Homo sapiens: one gene and its partner. The protein of the gene in region 1 interacts with the protein of each later gene in a biochemical or structural test. Each region holds a gene or a part of one and is shown in the gene's direction. Other genes may lie near its edges.

Region 1 (7,824 bases):
TCCACTGAGCTCTTCGTAAGAGGTAAAAATGAAATCTCTTATTGTGGTCACCAGGAGCTGTTGGCTTCTTCTCCCAGGGATAATGATCAAAGTGAAAGTAACTGAGGCTCCTCTACACTGGCAGCTATTATGGATCCTAATGAGTCTTCTGGTTTGTTGAAGACTAGAACAGCAGAGGGGAGAAAGAGAACCTGTTGAGTACAAATGCCTCATGTTTTGACTCAAGCCAAGCACTATCTTGCAAAAATAATTATTCTAGTTATAGCTTTGAAACCCAACAGATTTTACTGGATAATCCTTGTTTCACACACTCAATTGATCACAAATAGGTTTCTCTTGAAACCAGCTTCATTAATAAGTGGTTGGTACCAAGCACACTGAAAATTATCATTTACTAAGACATTGTGAAAAGAGCTGGAGGGTGTGAATACAGCCATGTCTTCCTTATTTTCTTTATGAGGGCTTCTGATGACAGACAACCCTGAGATCTCTGTCATCCATCTGGAACTAGGATCAAAGATTTGAGTTTTATATATTCTCCTTCATCAGAAATGTCTAGCATTTAGTATCTTCTTTGCTAAAAGAATAATATTTGATATATGTTTTGTTTGTTCTTGAGAACAATAATTGATTTGACTTGGAGAACTGTGAAAAAATTGGGAGAATTTACCCAGGGTTGCCTGCTATTTATTTTGCCAAGAACAGACATAGAAAACAAAACAAAACAAAACAAAACTCACAGACAGCCACAGTGGCTCATGTCTATAATACCAGCACTTTGGGAGGCCAAGGCACGTGATCACTTGAGATCAGGAGTTCAAGACCAGCCTGGCCAATGTGGTAAAATCTCGTCTCTACTGCAAATGCAAAAATTAGTTGGGTGTAGTGGCATGCACCTGTAATCCCAGCTACTCAGGAGGCTGAGGCAGGAGAATTGCTTGAACCTAGGGGGTGGAGGTTACATTAAGCCAAGATCACGCCACTACACCTCAGCCTGGACAGCAGAGTGAGACTCTGTCTCAAAACAAGAACAAAAACAAAAACCTCACTTACTGTTATCACCATGTCAACCATAGATGTTGCTTTCTCACTGTTGGTTTTTCATCTGTGAAGAAATCAGGGCTCATGGGATAGGCTTTGGATATTTAATGATTCTGATTTCCCCTTTTTGTATACTAGAGCCTCCAATTATGGTGACCAAACAGCTGGAAGATACAACTGCTTATTGTGGGGAGAGAGTGGAATTAGAATGTGAGGTGTCTGAAGATGATGCCAATGTAAAATGGTAAATAGCCTTAATGAAGTCTGTCCATGTTTAATAGACAAAAAAATTGGACCTTCATAGTTGATAGAACAGGAAGTACAAATAGCTTTTAAACCTTTGAAAACAATCTCCACCTCATTTGTGTTAGTAGAGATGATAAATAAAAGTATACTAATATACTGGGGTTTTTCCACTCATGAGACTGAAAAAAGAACCAGAGATCTATGTGGGTAAGCACGTAGGGAAGTGGGTACTTAATACTAAGTGGATGACTCAAGTTTACCCAAGTCTATTTGACCCCAAAGCCTATGGATGCTCTTAACCTTTATAGCAGGCTTCCTCTCACTATGCCATATTGGCAACTTACATGAAAAAACATATTTAGTGTTTAGTAAGTTTAGTAAGACTTCTTTAGATGTCTTCTAAGTGGGCTTACTAATGATAGTTGTGTTAATTCGGTTTTAGAAAAGTTTCTATTTGATTTCTATTTGCAATGATTTTTAAGTACATATTTACATGTGTTTTTCATGTAACCCCTAGTCACTTTATTTTCATAGTACCTCAGGGGAAAAAAATTTAGACTGAGAATCACCAATTGCTTTTAGAAATAAGAGTTTATTTGTTTTGCTCAGGTGGGGAATGTTTTCTCAGGTTCCTTGTGAGTAATCTTAAAATTAAAAACTAGAAATTTTAAATCTTAAAATGAAATGTTATGTTGAAAGGTACAGTAAATTACACAGCAGGATTTGTAGTAATTGGTACAGTGTAGATTGTTCATTCTAATAGAGAATCATAGTTATCTTTAAAATGCATTAAATGATATTCTTACTAATGTGCTTCAAGAGCCTACATGGGGGTAATATCCACTCTTAGCAGTTGCACCTGATTCATCTTGAGTGCGAGCAGGTGGCTCGTGTTCTTTTAACACAATTTTGTAGACAATATTTGTTACATTATGAATCTACTGATGGATACAGAGATTGATTCGTACATTTTTTAATTCAACAAATAGTTCTTGTGTGTCTCATATCCTCCAGAAATTCTTCAGGATATTGCAATAAGCAAGATGGACAAGGTATTTTTCCTGAAGGATCTTTTACAAACCTTTTTAATATTTTATCTTAATTCAGGTTTAAGAATGGTGAAGAGATTATCCCTGGTCCAAAATCAAGATACCGAATTAGAGTTGAGGGTAAAAAACACATCTTGATCATAGAGGGAGCAACAAAGGCTGATGCTGCAGAATATTCAGTAATGACAACAGGAGGACAATCATCTGCTAAACTTAGTGTTGACTGTAAGTGAGACTTCTTTAGATGTCTTCTCAGTGGGCTTATTAATGATGGTTGTGTTAATTCGGTTTCAGAAAAGTTTCTATTTGATTTCTATTTGCGATGATTTTTAAGTATGTAAAATGGATTTCATTCCAGCTAAGTGTCTATGTCAGATCAATCAGGATATTTAAGGAAGGAACCACGACTCAATTTAATAGTAGAGCGCCAATATTAGGAAGGAAGTATAAAAATCACCTGCCAGAAGAGTTATAATTCCAAGACCGTAAAAATAGGGGATAAATACTTAGATACGATGTCATATCCTGATAATGTTAGCTAGCTATTCATCAAATAACCATTCAACACTCTGCAATTACATTTGGCATGAGAAGAAAGTAATTCAAACCAAAAGGGCTCAATTGAGAAGATTGTAAGAGCTAATTTGCTAGTAGGCTTCAGAGGCATGAGAGAATTAATGTACTTCCCTCAATGCCCTCTACTTCTAGTCAGTTAGCAATGGCAGAATCTCTCCCAATTTGCCATAAAAATTAAAACAGCAAATATCTCAAGATGATGTCACAAAAAGAGCAGAAATCTTACTTCCACATTTATTGCTTAGTCCAGTTGCAGTTCATATAATCATTGAATTATTCAGGATCAATCCCAATACATTCCTTATGCTTTATGGATCTGTGGCCATTTTAGTTTAACATCAAGAAGTCTTTCAGCCATAGACAGATCCTTATCTGATATTTGTATCCATTTAAAGCAATTATAATCCATTCTGCTATGATGTAACATGTGCATTTCTAAAAATAATTATGCTATGCAAAGTCATGCAGTAAAAACCATAGGGTTTGTAGGGGAAATGGGATTATGGGTATGACACTCAAGAATTTTGCTGGTTTATTAGTCCGTTCTCATGCTGCTAATAAAGACATACCCAAGACTGGGTAATCTATAAAGGAAAAAGCTTCAGTTGACTCACAGTTCCGCATGGCTGGGGAGACCTCAGGAAACTTACAATCATGGCAGAAGGGAAAGCAAATATGTCCTTCTTCACATGGTGGCAGCAAGGAGAAGTACCAAGCAAAATGGCAAAAGTCCCTTATAAAACTGTCAGATCTCATGAGAACTCAGTCACTATCATGAGAACAGCAGCAGGGGGGTAACCGCCCCCATGATTCAATTACCTCCCACCACGTCCCTCCCATGACATGTGAGGATTATAGGAACTACAATTCAAGATGAGATTTAGGTGAGGGCACAGCCAAACCACATCAGTCAGCGACATATTTTTTAAAATATAAGAACCCAGTAAAAAGTAGTAGCACAGTTTTACACATGCTAAATGGTTAATAAATATAATAAATATGGCACTTAATGTTGAAAAAGACCTGAGATTTGCTTACAGAATTAATGCTGGAAGTGTTGTGGCTTGTGAACTGTTGTGAAGCAGTAGAAAGAGGATTATTCAAAATCTGATGAGTAGTTGTGACCTCAGATGTAAATGGGTGTGGCTTATATCACATGGATGAACTGAGGTAGCTGATAGATGTTTGAGGTGTGAGTCTGCAGATTTTGTGCATTCCTTGCTGGGTCATTTCAGCTGGATGCAATTTTCTGCATTCACCTAGTTTTTCTAAGGAATGAAATTGTACAGAATCAAATGTGAAATTATCCTCTAATATATTAATTGCATTGGTACAGCTTCTCACTTTCAAAACAAACATTGTAGTAGAGCTCACTATACCATTGTGAAATGCCACCATCTTGGCCTGTTGGGAGTTTGGGCTTGGCATTTGTGATGGTCTATCATTTCTACAGTGAAACCTCTGAAGATTTTGACACCTCTGACTGATCAGACTGTAAATCTTGGAAAAGAAATCTGCCTGAAGTGTGAAATCTCTGAAAACATACCAGGAAAATGGACTAAAAATGGCCTACCTGTTCAGGAGAGTGACCGTCTAAAGGTGGTTCACAAGGGAAGGTAAGCGAGCCAGGTGACCCGCAAGTGAGGTTTGGTCCCATTTCTACTTTCTCCATTTTCTAAATTACATATTTGGTGAGGATATTTGAAGGGTAGCCATAGGGAGATCATCTATTCCTGATTCTTCGCTTCCAACTAGCAAGAAGGTGTGATTTCTCTGTTGTATAGCATGTCCTACTCATAATCCTGTATCTGTACCTCACACTATGGTACTTTGTCTATTCAAAATCCATTGACTCTTTTTCCATTTAAACATGAAGTTAGAGGCCAGGCACCATGGCTCATGCCTGTAATCCCAACACTTTGGGACGCCAAGGCAGACGGATCAATTGAGCTCAGGAGTTCAAGAGCTCCTGGGCTACATGGCAAAACCTCATCTCTACAAAAAACACAAAAATTAGCCAGGCGTGGTGGCATGCACCTGTAATCCCAACTACTTGGGAGGTGGGAGGATGGCTTGAACCCAGTAGGGGGAGGTTGAAGTGAGCTGAGATCACACCACTGCATTTCAGCCTGGGAAACAGAATGAGAGACCTTGTCTCTAAAATAAATAATAAACATGAAGTTAGAGGAAAAATACTGAATTCTAATTGAGGACCTGATCAAATGGATTAACCGTCTCTAACCAATAAGTGTCACAATGCCTTCCCACAAATCTTTATTTGCGTAGGGGACATAATATCCTAGAATCTGGCAAAGATCTAAGGCAAGAGTTTAACTTTGAATTCATGGGCTTTTAGGGTATCATAAATGAACTTTAGGAAGCCCCATAACTCCTGTGAAATTGTGAGAAAATTCTATGTGTACAAAAATACATACTGTTTACACAGAAAGGATTCATAGTGTCCATCAGATATTCACTAGTTTGTGACCCCAATAAAGTTAAGAGCTATTGTTCTTAGGGTTTGGGATGTAAAGCCAAAATCAAGATTATTCTTGGCATCTCTTGAATCTTAAAGTATAGCATTATTGATATGTTCTATTTTAGCCTTTTTAAAGCTATGAGATGAAAAAAAAGAATAATAGACTCTGCATATACAATAAGCAGATTCTATTTGTGGAGATAATTCCATATAGTCCAAAATAAAGATTTAATTTGAATCAATAAGTAGGATAATTAAGGCTTCTCATCCTCTCTCTCTCTCTCTCTCTTTCTCTCTCTCTCTCCCTCTCTTTCCTGCACTAAAGAAGTTAATCAGATAAAGGTCAAGTGTCTTTTCAGCTTGGGTCATATATAAACTAGATCTTTGGAGTCTTAGAAATACATTTTCCTTGTTTCCTTAGGATCCACAAGTTAGTGATAGCCAATGCCCTCACTGAAGATGAAGGTGATTATGTATTTGCACCTGATGCCTACAATGTTACTCTGCCTGCCAAAGTTCATGTTATTGGTGAGTAGATAAAATAATTCATTGCATAGTTGTGTTCTTTTTTGTTTGCTTTTGCTTACCATGGAATTATAATATATTCAAAACTAAGTGACATTTAAGGAAAAATACATCAATTGGTATTAATCACCAATCAGAAAGATTGGTGACTTATACCAACACCTTACAATAAAATGGTTTTGCAAGGTGCCAGGCACCAACTATCTTGACTCCTCTTATATTCTTTTTGATTAGATAAAATATTGGTTACTACCATCATACTAGCCAAACATTAGTGCAGATATTTACACAGAAATGACTGTCTGATAACAAAGACTATGCTTAATATTCTAGATCCTCCTAAGATCATCCTGGATGGTCTTGATGCTGACAACACAGTGACAGTGATTGCAGGAAACAAGCTTCGTCTTGAGATCCCCATCAGCGGAGAACCACCTCCTAAAGCCATGTGGAGCCGGGGAGATAAGGTTTGTTTTATGCTTGCACACACTCACATGCACACACACATATGCAGACACACTGCCTACCCCACCCCTTGCCCTCCATTATTCAGATGAAGGTAGAAAACAAATAAATGTACAGCAGTACAGTAAAGATGTAATTCCTTTGAAAAAGAAAGATGACTGATTTTCAGGCAAATCTGATCATCATTAATTTACTTCTCATATTTCTGACTATTATGTAGCAAAGCATGTTTTGATGCACAGTGAAAAAGCCTCATTTTTATTCTAATGAAATTGGGGGGATGAAAAAGAAAATGAATTATTAAATAAATAAATGAACAAAGTCACTTTGGATAGTAATAAGTACAAGAAGATAATAAAAGAGAATGATACAATAGCAAGTAACTGCATAGTCAATGGCAGCCTCTGTGAAGAACAAGGAACCCATTATGTGAAGATCAAACGGAAGACATTTCCATACGGAGGCAATTACAAGTGCAAAGGCCAAGGGGAGAGAATAAGCCTGATGTGTTGGAGGAACAGAAGGAAAGCCAGCATGGCTGGGGCAAAGTGAATGATTGGGAGAAATGCAAGTGAGGGTGAAATGGTAGAGTAGTGCCAGCTCAAGTGTGACTCCGTGGCTTTCTACAAAAATAAAAGCAAAAAAAGAAAAATTACATTTAAAAAGAAGACATGAGGCTGGGCATGGTGGCTCATGCCTGTAATCCCAGCACTTTGGGAGCTGGGGCAGGCAGAACACCTGAAGCCAGGAGTTCCAGACCAGCCTGAGCCTGCATGGAGAAACCCCATCTCTACTAAAAATACAAAAAAATTAGCCAAATATGGTGGCAGCATGCCTCTAATTCCAGCTACTCAGGAGGCTGAGGCACAAGAATTGCTGGAACCCGGGAGGCAGAGGTTGCAGTGAGCCGAGATCACGCCACTGCACTCCAGCTGGGTGACAGAGTGAGACTCTATCTCAAAACAAATTTTTTTAATGTTAAAAATAAAATTAAATAATAAAAAGCAGAATGAGACTTCTACTTTCAACCAGAATTGAATAACAGGAACCAGATTTACCTACTCACTTGAAATAACCCCCAAAATAGACAAAATATGTGAACAATGGGTTTCAAGACATTGGACATCAGATCGTGAAAGACAATGACTATGAAATATGATAAACAAATGAAATAAGCCCTATAATTGCCTCAAGCTTATTGCCATAAAAGAGTATCCAGGCAGTGGCACAAGGAAGAAAAACCTGGACAGAACCCAGTGGACTCCCTAAGTTTAGGACTCCCATTGTACAAGGAGACCAAGGCAGCTAGAGTTCATAGGATACATACTATACATACTGGAGGAGAGAGCTGCACAGAGAGTCCCCCTGGAGCTCTGCAGAGGAACACGCTCAAGTATTCAGCAAAGATCAGTGCACATTTATGAGGAAACTACCCAAGATTCA
Region 2 (8,551 bases), on another chromosome or scaffold:
ATCTCAGTTATCAGCATTAAGAATAAAGGTATGGATGGAAGCTTATTTGATTTGTTCTTCTTTCCTATTATGGATATTAACCAGCTGGGTAAATTATAGAATAGGGTCATGGAATGTTTAGCCCTCAAGCATTTATCAGAGGCTTAAAATGTTCATAAAAGGTGGGCTTGGTGAATGCCAGGACTTAGCATGGTTGAAAGGGTGTTTTGAGTCATGGTACATGGCAATATGGAAATAAAACAGATATGTCACAAGTAGGTGGTAGAAATAAACTGGAAGAGAATTTTAACATCTAAAATGTGACAAAGATTTATCCTTACCAGCTTCTCAGTTTCCTGAAACATTTATTTTCCTTTGATTTTAGATTCTGTATTTATGTTATATATCTCTTTCTAAAACATTTTCTTGTTTCTGTTTTCTTTACTTCTTTTACTTTTTTGCCACTTCTGTTTTTTGAAAAATATCATCCTAGGCATGCTCTGAAAGTCATTTGTTCGGTGTTTTCCTGATAGTGATTTCTGGTTATAGGCCCATAAAGTATCTGTAGGATGTGGTTAGGATAGTTCCTACCTCTTGGTAAAAGTCTAGTAGTAACACAGGAAGGGCACAGACTTTGGGGACAAGAGACATTTAAAACTGTTACTGATCATGACATTACCAAAAATCAAAAGACAGGGGCCATGGCTCATGCTTCGTAATCTCTCTGTGAATATTATAAGGAAAATTCTAAGCCCTGGTCAACTGTGAAATGAACAGGTCTTCAGTGGAGTTAATTAGCATTTTCCAGGTGCTTTGCTGTTTACAGTGTCCTTTATTTCATGTATCTTCTCATTTGTTACAGGTCTTCTTTCATACCTTTTCCTTTTCTCTGAGATTCAGAGACCCTTTGGGGAGGCTGAATTTCAGGTTTGTTTTCATTAGGACCTTACATGACCAAATCCCCCCTCTTGGGGTTCCAGGGGTGCTCCTTCATTTTACTCTCTGATGGGTATGCCATGAATTGTGACATTTAAGCAGTGACTTTGCAAAATTGGACGTGTCAGTAGGAAAAAGTACTCTTCCCACCTTAAAGATTGACAGGAACATGAGATGGCTGAAGCTGTTCTGAGCTTTTTTCTGGCAAGAGTACATAGGACAAGAAATACTCTGGAGAGCTCAACATTGAATCACATCATATCATAGTGCATGACTAGTTGCCTTAATCTTGCAGTTGGACTCACTCAGGAGAAATTGTTGGCAGAGGGATTAAGTAGCCTGACAAAATTATATTGAGAAAAAAACTTGCAGTCTATTAATTTATTAGTAGTAGATATGAGGGAAAGAAGAGTCATGTAAAAAAAAAAAAAAACAACTGGACATGAAACCACGGAGAAATCCACAAAGACTCCATTACAGTTTGTTATCAGCCTCTTGCCCCTGGCCATGACTAATGGCCAGTAATTGTCTGAATAAGTTTTTAACCATTTGGAAATTTCTTCAGGAAAAGAAAAATCTAGTAAAGGGAGAAGGGTGACCACAAGTCAAGCTGTGAATGAGGAAGTCCTGAAATGTGGGCTAAGTGGGTCACTGAATTTGCCGTGTTTGATTCTTCGGTTGCACCACTTTGAACTTTTGAAGTTTGATCCTCCCAGTGGTGTTTCTGAGGTAGAGAGGCTAGGATTAGATTGCAGTGTGAGAAATCCCACAAACGTGATTCTACTGTAATCTTACTGTTCTCTCTCGCTCCTTGATAACTGGGATCCCATTAAAGGGGGTTCATTATTGACATCTCAGAAGAAACTCATTGTGAAGTCTAAAATAAAGTGCCATTCTTCCCTACACCAGCTCTGCCTCCCATATTCCCCATTATTTTCCCAGTCACCCAGAGTCACAACCTCAGAGAGATCCTTGGCTCCTTCCCCTTCTTTCAGTTCTTGTAGCCCTGTCACAGTGTCCCTTATATCTAGTTTTTCCTTTCCATGCCCATTGCCCCTGCCTCTCATTCTTTCAGTCTTTCCTTGCATCTCAGTGGACAATTGCATTACCCTGTGCTGTCTTCCCTGCCTCCTCTCTTCTCTGAGATCTGCTCTTCTTATCACTGCTTGCATGACTCCATCTCATTCTCCCCTTGCACCAGTTGCAGAAAGATCCTCCGTGTGTGGCTTTCCCTCCTCTCTAGCTTTCGGTCCTACTACTTCCTTATCTTGTGCTTCTGTCACACCCCAACCCCCCCCAGCTGCATCCTGCTTCTTGAACACGTCCTGTGTTTTTCTCATACCTTAGGTGACATGGTACCATTTTCTTGGAACACTCCCTCCCCCTTGTCTGCATGCCAAAGTCTTAATCATTCTTCAGGGACCAGGTCAAATGCCGTGACATCCATCAAGTCTTTTCTCATCTCCAAACCAGATGTGATCTCTCCCTGTGATAAATGTCAGTAACACTTTATACCTTTCTTGTAATACTTGTAAGGCTCTGCCTTGCATAGTAGTCATTTGCATATTTATCTTGTTACACTTGAAAGTAAGGACTGTATTTTATTCTTTGTGACCAGTAAAATACCTTGCACCACATAGTAGGGCATCTGTCCAATAAATGCTTGTCATATACAATAAAGCAATGGCTGGGGCGGCATTATCTACAGGTTAACCCAATAATAGGTCATAATGTATCTGCAGATAGTAGGACCATAAGGATGTGTAGATAAACCCTGAAGTAAATGATTCGCAGAGGGTCACATGGAAGGGAAACAGGGAGTTTGATACCTAGCACTCACTGAAAAAAGCGTCCGGATACTGCTAGAGTGTGAGACTAGAAGGCCTGAAATGTAACCATCATACACCAAAGAGAGTTGCTCCCAAACACCAGCCAACTCCACCAATAGTATATAAAGGTGCGTTGTAAACAGTACAGTGATTCTTAAAGATATTATTAAACATCATACTGTTAATATATAACAAGATTGACTAATATGCCAATGAAACCCGTGACTCCAGGTACCTGTGAAATAGCCAGCAAGGGTTCTGAGCCACTGATCCAAGACAGGACAAAGTTACCAACTATTCTTCCTAAGAAATTGTTTCTCATCATGCAAGGGGCTGTTTCTGTCTTGGTTTTGTGGAAGGTCTAATTCTGTGGCTTGAGGACATCTGCAGTAGGGCCAGATGTCAGAGCAGGTAGTGGTCATGCTTCATGAAGTTTTTAGGAGGGCACAGTTACCTGGTTGATGCAAATGGAAGTAACTGGAATAAATGCTATTGTTGCAGGCCCAAGCTCCCAGTCCATCCTGGCTGGTCATAGTTGACTAATTCATGGTGGTCAAAAAGTGATTCTCTTGTCTTTGAATTTTCTCTTGTATTTTAGGCAAAACAGATTTGTTTTTTGATACTTTCATAAAGCTGTCTATCCATATTCTGTTGTCACTTTTCAAAATGATCAGAAACCTAAAGAACTACCATACTTGCCTAAAAGAAGACACTTCCTGATGCATAGCTTGAAACAGGAATTGACTTCCTAAAGGAAAGTATTTGGCACACCAAGCCTATTGTTCACAGCGCTGCAAGAGAGGCATTTCAACATACATGGGCTCTTCCTAAAAATATAACTTGCTAAAATAAAAAATTCAGGGTTCATTAAGGTTAATCATCTAATAAAGTAAGAGAATTTCCTCTAGGTGAAAAGTTTCAGTTTATTTTAGGGGTGTGGTGTTGTTACAACTGGCTAATCTCCGCACCATAATTTAATCAGGCTGGATGAGAAAGAGACTAGAAAGGCGTGGAGCCAGAGCACAGTGTAGCTTCTCTTCTTTTCCCAGGCTTATTTTTTTCCTCTAACATGTAATAAATTTACTCGTAACAACCTGGCTTTTATTGTGTCATTTTCTAGCTAACTGGGAGTTACTGATGTCAGTTGTCTTTTAGAATAACTTTTCCTTAAACATTTGAAGATCGTAAGAATTGGGGAACTCATTCATTCATTTATTCATGGAGCATTTACTGCTCACCTACTGTGTGCTATAGGAACATGAAGACAAGCAAAGCACTGCCCTGGCCCTCAACCTGGTAGGGGAGATGTGTGAATAGGGCCAAAACCACTTAAACAAGACAGTGGCTATAAAGGTGTCTGTACCAGCGAGAAGGTCAGCTGCCTTCCTTGAAGTTGAGTGGCCAAAACCACTTTCAGGATTGCAGGTGGGACTATGTTTTGGAGGCTTGATGGATTTTTCAGTTATTTAGTTCATTCTTTCAAGGAATAGTTATTGAGAGCCTCCTGGGAGCTGGGCAGTGTTCTAGGCTCTGGGGCCACTGCAGTGAGCTCCAGTACTAAATCCCTGCCTTCATGGAGCAAAGCAGGAGATCAGACAGCAAGGAGAGAAATCAGTGCAATACCAGCAGACTTGAAGTAGGGAAAGGAACAACCATGACTCTGGGCACAGGGGACAGTGAGGAGGCCAGTGAGGTGGGAGTGAGGGAAAGGGGGCTAAGGGTAAGGCCAGAGAAGGAATGTGGAAGAAGGTCCTGGAGGGACTTGGGGGCTTTCTTTTCCTAGAACATGCTCCTAATAGCCAGCCCCCAGACATCTGATGGCCTGTTGAGCTATTACAACATTTTAGGTTGATGTCTTCATTTTCATTCATGTTTTTCCTTTTATTGTCCCTGATGCTGAAAAACAAGAGGTTGAGTTTGTGAGACAAAATGTCTTCATTGTGTGTGTGATGGGGATAGGCATAGTCTCCCCATCTTGTTCTGTGCTGTCTGCCGTTAAGGAGGTGGGGAGATTACGATCACTCTCCTTTCCTGTACAGTAATCTGCTGATCTCTGGAACATACTAAGGAGGACATAGAGTGACAACATCTATAATCCCCTTAATCTCTATATTCATACTGTCTAATCTCCTTGAGTTACACTGGTAACATAAGTCTATCTCTTAGAGTTACTTTTATCATTAACAGCACAAAAATGTATTATTTACAGGGCCAAATGCAAGCTCTTGAGGCATATAAAGTGGATTAATAAGGTTGGCTCAGCGTTAAGCTATGCCAGAGCCGAGTCCAAATTTTATTCCGGTACAGGGATGACTTTCTATGTGGCCTCTCTGGCTCTGGAGCTAATTTGGATGCTGAGTAGCCCCGCAGGTATTTATATGTAGCGTTTGGTATTTTTACTGGGTCCTATTCTTCTCCCTTGGATCACCTAAAATGGTTAAGAATTTTCTAGTGGGATTAAGGTTGTGATCTCTGGGGAGGGGTGGGACATCTGCTCTCGGTTATTTTTGTGTTAGCCGCTTCCCCTTAAATGTATGTTCACAAATGAGCCACAGCCTTATCAGCTGGGGTTGAGGGAAGACTGGTCTAGGTGCTGCTCCTGAACTTGGTCTCTGAGCCATGGCTTCCCATAGACACTCAGGTAAAACTTCATGCTCTTTATCTTATATTGAGCACAGTTTTGTTAGGGCAGTGAATCCGTCATTGGGCTAAAAGATGGTTTTTGATGAAATGATTTTAGTCTTGTCTGAATAGTAAATAAATTATAGCTTGTCTCTGTTTTGCCTTTGCCTTTCATGCTATTTCAAAGACAAAATATTGTTCAAGTACAATGAACAGTTTGAGTGATTTATTTTAAAAAGAAGTATATAAACATGTTACCACTATATTTTTACCTTTTTCAGGACATCTCATGAAACTATAAGAGATTGTGGGAGGAAAGGTTTTTCTGGTTAGGAATTTTTGGCTTTCTTTTTTATAAGATACAATTCTTCATCTTGACAGTGCTTTACATCCAAGGTGTTTGGAGAAGGTAAATCGAATGTGGAGCTGAAAGGAGGAACATTTGTAACTAAGAAAGTCCATAATGACCTAGCACATCTTCCCTTTTGCTGACAATGTTTTAAATCTTCCCGAAGTAACAGCTATGTTCCTTTTGATATGCTAAGTATGTTATTAATTGTTTTTAGCAGAAAAAGGGGCACATTTTGGACTCCTTGGGACATGAGCATTTTCTTCTGGTTTTGTAACCTTACAATTAAGGAAGCCCTTTGGCCATCGACAAGAAATCTATGAACTAGGGGCTGAGGGGCCAAAAGCCCAGTTATTTGAAGCCAGGAGGGTGGCTGTGGCCCTGTGGCCCTCTGCCTAAGTAACGGTTCCCTTTCTTGGGGCTGGTAAAGTCAGACGGTTAGATATAAAGAAGGCACTTCATCCTGTCTCCCAGCTTTCAGATTAAGGGATGTCATTATCTATGTTTTTTTTTTTTTTTGAAAAATCATTTTTTAAAACTCATTGCCTGTCAATATTTAAACAATGGAAATACTTTAGGAAATTTCTCTTTTTGGGGTTTTAAATATGCTGCAATGGAATGCCCTACCTTAATGAATTAATATGTAATGTCTTCCCTGTTCCCAAGTGTTCAAAAGTTGTCTGGTTTTTTTTTTTTTCCAACCCTCAGGAGCTGTTTCACAAACATGGTACCAAATGCTTGAGATTGTGGTTATCAGCCAAGATACACATTCTCTGGGTGTAGGCAAACTAGTCAGCTGTGCTAGTTGTCCTGATGAACCTTAAATGCATGTTACCTGGTAGAATAACTCTCATTTTGTTTACTAATTAAGTGACAGAATAGTGACAGAAAGTTTAAAAGTTTAAATAGTGACAGAAAGTTTATAGCATACCCAACCTTGGGTTTTAAATTGCACCAAATTCTTATGTCGTTCTTGTGTATGTAAGTCTGGAGGCTCTAATAACTGTGGCTAAATGGGACCAATTATTTATACCTTTTAGATGATTTTTGAATTCAGGAAATTGCATTTTGTATTGCATTAGGTTAATAGATTCATGAAAGCAGAGAAGAATCAGTCCATGAGACAGAGAAGTCCTCATAGAAAATCAGTGTTGCCCTGAAACGGGCTCAGTATGGGCAAAATAGAAGCTAGGATAATTGGATCCAAATCCATTTTTAGTGACTATCCATATACTGAGAGGACATTTCAAGGACAAAAACAATGTATACTCTTGACATTGAAGACTTTCTGTCTGCAAAATTATGTAGATTCAATTTCTTTAGCCTTTGGCCTTTCAAGTCGAAAACCAGGTTTGGGGTGTGGAGGGGGATCAGGTCACTTGCCATATTACACAGCCATCGATTCCCTTCACCAGCTGCTGCTCAGTGGGCCGCACAAGCCCGCCAGTCTTTTCTCAGGGCAGGGATGGAAAATGAGAGGGTAGGATGAGAGGAAAGTAATCCAACTGGATTGGCTTCTTAAAATACAGAAGATTTGAGTGAGAGTGAAACTGAACATTTTGTGCTTTTGATGACCACCAAATGACTACCTACTACTTCACCACAGCTGGAGAAACTAAAAACACATGCTCTTTTGCTGCCGGGTCAGAAATGCTTTTTTTCCCATATGAAAGAGGGGCTGTGTTGCACGTAATCTGTGCAACATTATGAAAAATCTTCATATACAGACAAAATGGTACTAGAATTGAATCTGGACTGCAGGAAGTTCAGTGGCACATAATTTTTCTTTTAATAATCTATATCGAACCCTCCTGACACCCGATATAATCTAAAATGGCATTAGTTATACATCAGTGACCCAAAAAAGATTTGTTTTTTTTCTAAATGCAGCATACCAGTGAAGTTGCTAATTACATTGAATCATTCTGTACACGTTCTATTTTGAAGGGAAAAAACACTTTCTGATTTTTGTATGAAATTGTATGAAAGACTACTTTTCAGCCGTGACTCATGAGCTCCGTCTCATTGCAGCTACTTAGGTATTTATTCCCAAATGTCTGACGACACCTCCAGGTGCATTAGCATGTCTATTACACAAGTGTCCTATTCATTGGCTAAGGCTTTGCTCCATCTGTTGAATGTTCTGAGGAAAGCATTATACCCTTTCTTTAGAAGCCAGTGTTTATATGTGGAGTCACTAATGTACTGGTAGGTTGGATTTAGTGAAGAACAGATCTGAAATAACCTGATTTTTTTCCATTTGGGTTGTTGTTCATTGTTTACACTGTACATTACACCCTTCATGGAAAACACATAGAAAAATGCTACCTACTCATGATATTCACATTCTCCTTAAATATTCATAGTTTGAGCAACTCAGGCATGAGGGAGAAGATGAACAATAGGAAGAAATACATGAGAAAATACATGTAAAAACACAAGCAAGATTTATTAAATACAAATCGACTGTAATGAGAGGTTTATAGTAAAAAAGAAAAAAGAAAAAAACAAATGTTGTAATGTTATATTACTTGTATGTGTACATGATTAAATTGAAAGCCAAAACTTTTAATTAAGATACTGAGGTTTATTTAGGCACCTCTCAGCATGTTGGATGTAGTTCAAGAATTTTCTGAAAAAGGAAGCTTGTTTATTAAGTGAAAATGATGTGTCTTTTGAAGCAGGCATAGAAAGTCAGGCTACCCTTTTGGAATAAATGTCTAAAATTTTATCACCCAGCCACATTTCTAACTGTATTCTAAGCTTGTAAAACTTTAATTTAGTTAATTTTTAATTAAATTATTTAATAATGATGCTTTCTGTCTTAGAAAATCAG

What was found.
Region 2: the proteins of MYBPC1 (region 1) and FHL1 form a complex in vitro, tested with the Homo sapiens proteins (one study listed by BioGRID).

What each region holds. Positions count from the first base shown.
Region 1 is NC_000012.12:101,646,866-101,654,689, forward strand, and holds part of MYBPC1 (myosin-binding protein C, slow-type), read left to right. Parts: coding exon 1-22; exon of another isoform or gene 23-163; intron 164-1,179; coding exon 1,180-1,285; intron 1,286-2,394; coding exon 2,395-2,561; intron 2,562-3,950; exon of another isoform or gene 3,951-4,006; intron 4,007-4,365; coding exon 4,366-4,528; intron 4,529-5,812; coding exon 5,813-5,919; intron 5,920-6,249; coding exon 6,250-6,383; intron 6,384-7,824. UniProt on the Homo sapiens protein: Thick filament-associated protein located in the crossbridge region of vertebrate striated muscle a bands. Slow skeletal protein that binds to both myosin and actin.
Region 2 is NC_000023.11:136,191,750-136,200,300, forward strand, and holds the start of FHL1 (four and a half LIM domains protein 1), read left to right. Parts: upstream 1-5,297; 5' UTR 5,298-5,363; coding exon 5,364-5,385; intron 5,386-8,551.